2 linked regions of the Homo sapiens genome follow. The protein of the gene in region 1 purifies or fractionates together with the protein of each later gene. This does not show direct contact. Each region holds a gene or a part of one and is shown on either strand. Other genes may lie near its edges.

Region 1 (4,693 bases):
TAAAATATGTACAACTATTATAAATATATATAGGTGGTGGGGGATACAGGCACCACAACAGCAGACAATGTACAGCTATGACGTATCAATTTTTAAAAACTATGTAACAGAGAGCCCAATTTTAAAAAAAAATGCATTTACACACATCACAGGAAATACCTGGACGGAAGGACACTTAGTCAATGCTTTCCCATATATAGACTTTTCTCTATTAGGCAAATAGATACAAATATAAAAGATGAAAATGCTCACAATGCTTATCACAGTTTGTAAATACATATTTGCGTAATTATCTAATTGTTGTTTATTCTCCAAACTAGACTATTAGTTTCTTAAGGACAGAGACAATGTCTTTGCTTCCCATTGTATTCTCAGCACCTAGCTGAATGCCTAGCACATAGTAAGTTCAATAAATATTTGTCTTTTTTTTTTTTTTTTTTTTTTTGAGACTAAGTCTCGCTCTTGTTCCCCAGGCTAGAGTGCAATGGCGTGATCTCTGCTCACTGCAACCTCCGCCTCGCGGGTTGAAGTGATTCTCCTGCCTCAGCCTCCCGAGTAGCTGGGATTACAGGCACCTGTGACCACGCCCGGCTAACTTTTGTATGTTTAGTAGAGACGGGGTTTCACCATGTTGGCCAGGCTGGTCTCGAACTCCTGATCTCAGGTGATCCACCCGCCTTGGCCTCCCAAAGTGCTGGGATTACAGGCGTGAGCCTCCGTGCCCGGCAATAAATATTTGTTGAATGAATTAATAAATGATCTTTCTTGGGCTTTCTGGAATGCATGAGAGAATCTGCATTTTTCAGATTTACCACAAGATGGGCATTCATTTTAGTTTTACATCCATTATTACCTAGTACTAATAAATAATGAGTCAATTATCAGAAGTCACTCTAAACTCTTTTTGTGTCTTTCAGTATTCCCAAATGCATATTTCTGTTTTTCTCCCCCAGCAGTGTCTTATCTGATTAAATGCATATTTCTTACAAGACTTTACATTTGAATATTGCAATAGGAGTAAAATTTCAAAAAATAAAAATAAAAAAACCTTACATTTGTGAAGTAATCTTAGGGTTGGATAAAAAGGCCCTTCTCTTTGTCTAAAAAAGAGTAATTCTCCATTTACTGTAAGGATTTCTATATGTTCATGGCTGTAAGACAAATGTCACAAAGTACCAAGTTAGATATTTTCTTTCAAAAATTCACAATATAAAACACGCATATACAGTGATAAACTTTCTTAAAAAGTCAGTAAAAATCCTGGCCAAAAAATATTGTTTACATTGTTTTTCCTATCATGCAAGTCCAGTAGAGAAAAAAAGAAAAATATTACCTGCTACAACCAATTTTATTTCACATTTTATTAATTCCATTGTTAGGTAATTCAATAAAACAATTCTCTAAACAACAAACTGAAATAAATTAAATCCAACTCTGAACTAAAACATTTAACTCTTTACTAGAACAATCAATACACAAAGCCACATTTTTTCAGGGACATAGAAAATCTTTGAAAATACAAATATTGGAGTTTTAGAGTTATTCTGTGTCTACCCCATTATTAATCTATCAATAGTTAATCTGAAAATAATTCCATTTAGTATGAGTGCAATCTAATCATTAAATATTCAGCTATACCGAGCTTTACACAGACAAAAACAAAGACTTACCATCGGACTATTTTGACAGGATCTTTCTTAGGCATGATTTGATTAAGCCATGGTTCAATACCTGGAAATTGCTCTATCAATTGATTCTTAATACCCTTAATAACTGAAGTTTTCAACTGGATGCAGTTGGACACATTTTCTTTTTCATCAAATCTGCCAAGTAATTTTTGCAAGAAAAGAAAAGGCATTTCTAAGTAGAGGTATCAGAATACCTAAAGGTACTGTTCTAATTAGTCATTTATTCCCAACCAAGTATTTAGATACTTAATTATGAAATAAATTGTTCTTTTAAAAAAAAATACCATCTCCCTTTTACTCTGTCCAGCACAAAACCAATGTCTTAATACAATATTGAAATAAACTGTCAAGTATACAGCAATTAGCTGGGGTTAGGGGGAGGAATATGAGACATACTTTGCACCATAATCTGTAATTAGCTACACAAATGCCTTTCCTGGAAAATCTTATTCAATTCTACCCAGGAAGAAACACAGGCTCCCACCAATAATAAAACCTGAGATCAGAAAACAAAACCCTCAATTCTTGAGATACAAAAGACCAACCCAAGCATAACATAGAAAATCGGCCCCTGCTAGGCTATGTAATCTGCTGAGATTTTTTTTAAGTGATGATAATAATGATTTCTAAGATCCCTATTCGTTTTTGCTCAAAATTTCATGCACAAAACCCACCTTCCTTTGCCCATGTTCCCCCTTTGCTTTTTGCGTCTACCAAATCTGGAAGGCAAACCCACTAGTAGGTTCCCAAGGAATTTTTGTCTTCCTTACACTGAATAGCCTATGGGGCAATCGTTATTTTCAAGGCAAGGTTAATCTGGCAGCTAGGCAATAGGCATGACAGGCCGCTTGCTTCCTGTCACCCAGACTCCTTCACTCCCATGACCCAGGAAGTCAAGCCTTCCTTTATTCAGTTCATAACTAATAAACATATGGCAGTGAGCGCAGGGCTCCCCTCTCAGCTACAGAGAATATGCCTCTAAATCACAGTGCACGGATGTGATTGGTAGAACCCTAGGAATGGAGACAGAATTGGGGGAGGGGGCAAAAGAGAAAGAGGGGTAAGGAGAAAAAACAATGGGAGTGGAGGGACTGAAACCCAATTAAGGACTACGGATGGAAAGCTTAAAGAAGTGTTCAAGTTGGGAGTGAGAGCATAGTACTATAGAAAACCTTAGGGAGTCAGGATGGCAGGGGCGGGGGAGAGAGAAAGAGGATCTTAGCTCTCGCCCTCTTCCCCACCCCCACCCCACCGCCTTTGTGAGCAGCCGATGGAGGCCACAGCATGTCCTTACTTCTTGAACATGATCCAAGGTGAAGGGGGCGACGATAGGGAAGGGCCCGGAATGGGAAAGAAATTGAATTTGCAGGGGTCCGGCAGATCCCCTCACACGAGGAAGGCCGGCACTGACAGTCGGAGCTGTAGTCGTTATCCGGAAAACGAGAGCCAGCCGCGCTTTACGGCTCTCAGTCAAATCTGACTACTTCCGCTCCTCTGGACTCCACGTAGGCGCTTTTGCCGGCTCCTTTTAGGCAACCGGTTCCTCAGCAGTTGGAGGTAGCTGAAAGGGCGGGACTTGAGAGGGAAGAAGTGATAGAGCAATTGCAGGAAGAGAAGAATGGAGGGGGCGGAGAATCAATCAAAGTAGCATTTATGGCACTTGCGTCAGTTACGGGTTCCTCAAAGGGTCAAGATTCTTCCGTGCTTCGTTGCTACCTATCGTCAAAGTAAACGATTTTTTTAGAGGGAATGGTTTCTGTCCTGTCTGAGGCAACCGAATGGATTGGTGCTTACCTACCAGCATGAATCCAGGCAACCCTCATGGCTTCATGTTAAAGTGCTGGTAGGATTGCCAGGTTTAGCAAATGAAAATACAGGATGCCTATTTAAATTTGCATTTCAGGTAAACAATGAATATTTGTTTTAGTGTAAGTATACCTCATTAATATTTTGGATATACTTACACTAAAAATATACAGCGCTTGTTTAGCTGAATTTAATTGAGCATCCTGTTTTTTATCTTATAACCTTATTCACTGGCAACCGTACGATGCTCCCAAAGTTTTTTGCGGGTTTTTATTGAGACAGGGCCTCACTCTTGCCCAGGCTTGAATGCGGTGGTGCTATCATGGCTCACTTGCAGCCTCTACCTCCTTGGCTCAAGGGATCTTCCCACTTCAGCCTCCCAAGTAGCATGGACTACAGGCACACACCATCATGCCCGGTTAATTTTTTTATTTTTATTATTATTATTATTATTGTAGAGACGGGGTCTATGTTGCTCAGGCTGGTTGCAAAGTCCTGGGCTCAAGCAGTCCTCCCACCTTGGCATCCCAAAGTGCTGGGGTTACAAGCGTGAATGACTGTGCTCCCGTAGAATAATTCCCATAGAATTATTACAGAAGGTAATCTGATTTAAGAGATAATAGCTAAAGAGACATGTTTTACTTATGTAATTTTTTTAAAAATAAAGCTGATAGAGAAACAAAATTATGCCAATCAAGAGTTTCACTTTGTTTTTTGTTTTAGAGACAGCATCTCACTCTGTCACCTAGGCTGGAGTGCAGTGGCATGATCACGGTTCATTGGAGTTGCAACTTCCCAGGCTCAAGTGACCCTCCCGCCTCAGCCTCCGGAGTAGTTGGTACTACAGGCATGCACTACCACACCTGGCGAATTTTAATTTTTTGTAGAGACAGGCAGGGTCTCACTAAGTTGCCCAGACTGATCTTGAACTCCTGGCCTCGAGCAATTCCCCGAACTCAGCCTCCCGAAGTGTTGGGATTACAGCCATGAGCTACTGTGCCTGGCCTAATCAAGGGTTTTGATCAGCCAAGAAATCATGGAAAAATTTAAAAACCTGAAAAGGCCCTACGCAGGAGGTGGGGTGGGTAGGCACTGACATCCAAAACAAATACACCAGTCTCCCCAGGGAGTAAATACTCTAGTCCATATTGAGGAGACGGGCCATTAGAGCAATTATAGCAAACAGTACTATGCATTTA
Region 2 (3,570 bases), about 100 Mb from region 1:
TAGGACTCGCCTCACAGGATCTTGCCCCTTTGAGATACTCCCATTTGACTGGCACAGTTAGCAGGACACGCATGACAGCCCATGACAGAGTTAGTGTTTGGGGAAAATGGAATGCACCTTGGGCCAGGAAAAAAAAAATATAAGTACACCTATAAATGTATATGTGGGGGCTGTTGTGGTTAGAGTCATCATAGTCTAGGCCAGGGGTTGACAGACTTTCTGTAAGGTCAGAGAGTAAATATCTTAGGCTTATGAGCCATGCAGTTCCTGCGGCAACTACTCAATTCTGCTGTTGTAGCAGGAAAGCAACCATAGACAATATGTAAGTGAACAAGCATGGCTGTGTTCCAATAAAATTTTATTTACAAAAACAGTTTGCTGATCCCTGGTCTAGGCCACTCATAGAAGAGCAGATTTCCTTGGATTTGTATAAAATAAAATTAAAATAAAATAAAACATAAAATAAAATAAAATAAAATAGTATTTGATTTCTTTGTAGGGAGATGCAAGAGACAGGCTTAGTGTCCAAGGGCAGCTTATTTTTCCATTGCTCTATTATGCACTATTAGAGAGAATACCAGCCTGGATAGCTTCAGTAAATTTATGCTCAGTGGCAGATAGTGCCTGGATTGCCCTAGGCATTATGGCAGGCCTTGACTTGTATAAGCTGTTCTTTAGCAGAGACAGCAGCTTTTGGAAGACTTGTAAAGTGTTCATTGCTTTCCTGTGAGGTCTCTTCATGTTTATCAGGGAAGATGCAAAGCTGTGTCTATTTAGTTTTGCCTCAAACATGGAGACCCTTTGGAGCAAGCCAAAATGGTGCAAAGGTTAGCTGGAGATATTGAAAGACTTGTATTATTCAGTTCCTGGTGTTGCTAATATTTATATTCTTTTCTTTTAAGCCTCTGAAATAATTGAAGGCAAGATGAAGGAACTATCTGAAGAAATCACTACACTCTTAGAGAATCCCTCTGTTCTCCAGCAAACATGGGATGTAAAGCCTCACAGGGAATCTGATAATACATACTTCTGTCAACCAGAACCAGAGGGGTAGTTTTCTTTTCCCTCCAGAGGCAGCCTTTGGTACTTAAAATATCTGTAGCTGATTAAATTTTTCCCAACAACCTCACTGGGGAGAAAGTGTGTTCATGTTTTGTCCAGCGGATCAGGATGTTAGGATGACGAGCAAGAGTCCAGGTCACTGTGCCTTTGCTGTGTTGTATGGAAAGGATGGCAGGGAACATGCTGTAAGTAATTTTGAGTAAGAAAATGAGTCACTGTGTTACCTGGAACTCAGCCACAGATTTGTGTGTGGTCCAAGATCATTGCAGTTTCTCACCCTGTTTATTTCCTGGTAAAAGTAAAATTGAATAGGTCCAAGACTTGGGGGTGGCAAGTAAGGCTTTGCCTCAGGCACAAAATTTAAGGGGGCTCCAAAAAACTCAGGAATCAAGATCAGCAATACAGTCTGAGTATCCCTTATGTGAAATGCTTGGGGCTAGAAGTGTTTTGAATTTCAGATTTTGGAATATTTGCATATACATGCGATATCTTGGGGATGAGACTCAAGACTAAACATGAAATTCATTTATGCTTCATATACACCTTATATACATAGCCTAAAGGTAATTTGATACAATATTTTAAATAATTTTGTGCATGAAACAAAGTTTCGACTGCATTTTGACTGTGATTTCTGGCATGAGATCAGTTATGGAATTTTCCACTTCTAGCGTCATGTTGGCATTCAGAAATTTTGAAATTTTGGAGCATTTTGGATTTTCAGATTAGGGATGCTCAACCTGTATATATATTTTTTAATCGACGTGAAATTCACGTAACATAGAATTAACCATTTTGAAGTGAACAATTTGGTTGCATTCACTGATGTTGAGCAACCACCACCTTTAACTATTTCCAAAACATTTTCATCACTCCAAAATAAATGCCTGTACACACTAGCAGTCACTCCCTATCTTCCCCTCCACCTGTCCGCTGGCAACCACTGATCTCCTTTTTATTTCTGTGGCTTTTTCTATTCTGGATATTTCATATAAGTGGAATTACACAATATATGTGGTCTTTTGTGTCTGGCTTCTTCTGAGACAGTAGGAAGGGGGGCTTGGCTTTGGCTCACCCCCACTAGAGCATTTTTTCATGCATTCCCACTGATCACAAAACCCATACTACTACCTCATTGACACCATACCTGCTAACCTCGAGGCTTTAGTCATACAAAGAAAATGGCCTTTCTGTATTGTTCTTCTGTGCTCTCATAATGCTTAACCATGTCTTTTACTTAAACAATTCCAGGAACTGGCCTTAGGAGATCCAAATAGGGAACCAAGATTGCAGAGTGTCCCATCTTGGGAGGGAATGCTGAATAATTAATTGATTTACAGCCTTGTTGCCGCTGGCCAGACCACCAGGTGGCCCATTACTCGAGATGATCATCACAACCAGATGATGCTAACCTATATCCTCTACCCTTCGCGTGCTTTGTCTGGGAAGTCTTTTGGCCCCATGTCAGTTTCTATTGCATTGAGAGCCCAAGAGCCCCTGGTCAGTCAGGCTTCCATTTAGCATGGCGTTTGCAAGGTTTACCCATGTTGTAGCATGTGTCAGAATTTCATTCCTTTCTATGGCTGAATAAAATTCCATTGTATGAATATACCACAATTTGTTTCACCTTTTGGTTATTGTGACTAATACTATGAACAATCACATGCAAATGTTTGTTGGAATGCCTGTTTTTAATTCTTTTGGGGTGTATGCCTAGGAGTGGAATTGCTGTGTCATATGTAATTCTCTTTAACTTCTGAAGAAGGATCAGTAATATTTTAATGTAGTATTATTTTAAAAAATCAAAATTAGGCCAGGTGCGGTGGCTCACACCTGTAATCCCAGCACTTTGGGAGGCCAAGGCGGGCGGATCATGAAGTCAGGAATTCGAGACCAGCCTGGCCAACATGGTGAAACCCCGTCTCTACCTAAAATACAAAAATTAGCTGGGCATGGTGGCCCGTGCCTGTAATCCCAGCTACTTGGGAGGATGAAGCAGGAGAATTGCTTGAGCCCGGGAGGCGGAGGTTGCAGTGAGCTGAGATTGCACCATTGCACTCCAGCCTGAGCGACAAGAGCAAGACTCCGTCTCAAAAAAAAAAAAAAAAAAAATCAAAATGAAATAATTCACATTTGAACACAAAATCAAATTTTCAAATAAAGACAGGATCCAGCTCTGCACCTCCTTCACCTCCCCCAGTCCTTGCCCCATTCTCTGACGTTCTTATCTAGTATGTTTTCTACTTTTTCCTGTTGAATGTGCTTGAGATGACTTAGTTGTTGCCTACATTTAAGCTTTCTAATACTAATTTAAATATTTTAATTGTTCAGTTAATTTTTTTGTGGTGGTTTTGCTCCCCCCCCAACTTTTTTTTAATGCCATAAGGTATTATGGCCTTATTTTGTAAGATGCCACAGAAAATTCATCTACCAAGCACATACAAAAATGAAATGAGTAATTCTGGTAAACAAAAAAATTAAAGAGCTTTAGGGCCCTGCTTGCGAAAA

The links.
Region 2: the proteins of MCTS1 (region 1) and CTPS2 purify together in Homo sapiens (co-immunoprecipitation; one large-scale study listed by IntAct). This does not show direct contact.

What each region holds. Positions count from the first base shown.
Region 1 is NC_000023.11:120,602,537-120,607,229, reverse strand, and holds the start of MCTS1 (malignant T-cell-amplified sequence 1), read right to left. Parts: upstream 3,130-4,693; 5' UTR 2,994-3,129; coding exon 2,983-2,993; intron 2,532-2,982; exon of another isoform or gene 2,377-2,531; coding exon of another isoform or gene 2,363-2,376; intron 1,824-2,362; coding exon 1,671-1,823; intron 1,152-1,670; coding exon 1,054-1,151; intron 1-1,053. UniProt on the Homo sapiens protein: Translation regulator forming a complex with DENR to promote translation reinitiation.
Region 2 is NC_000023.11:16,587,108-16,590,677, reverse strand, and holds the end of CTPS2 (CTP synthase 2), read left to right. Parts: intron 1-902; 3' UTR 903-2,679; downstream 2,680-3,570. UniProt on the Homo sapiens protein: Catalyzes the ATP-dependent amination of UTP to CTP with either L-glutamine or ammonia as the source of nitrogen. Constitutes the rate-limiting enzyme in the synthesis of cytosine nucleotides.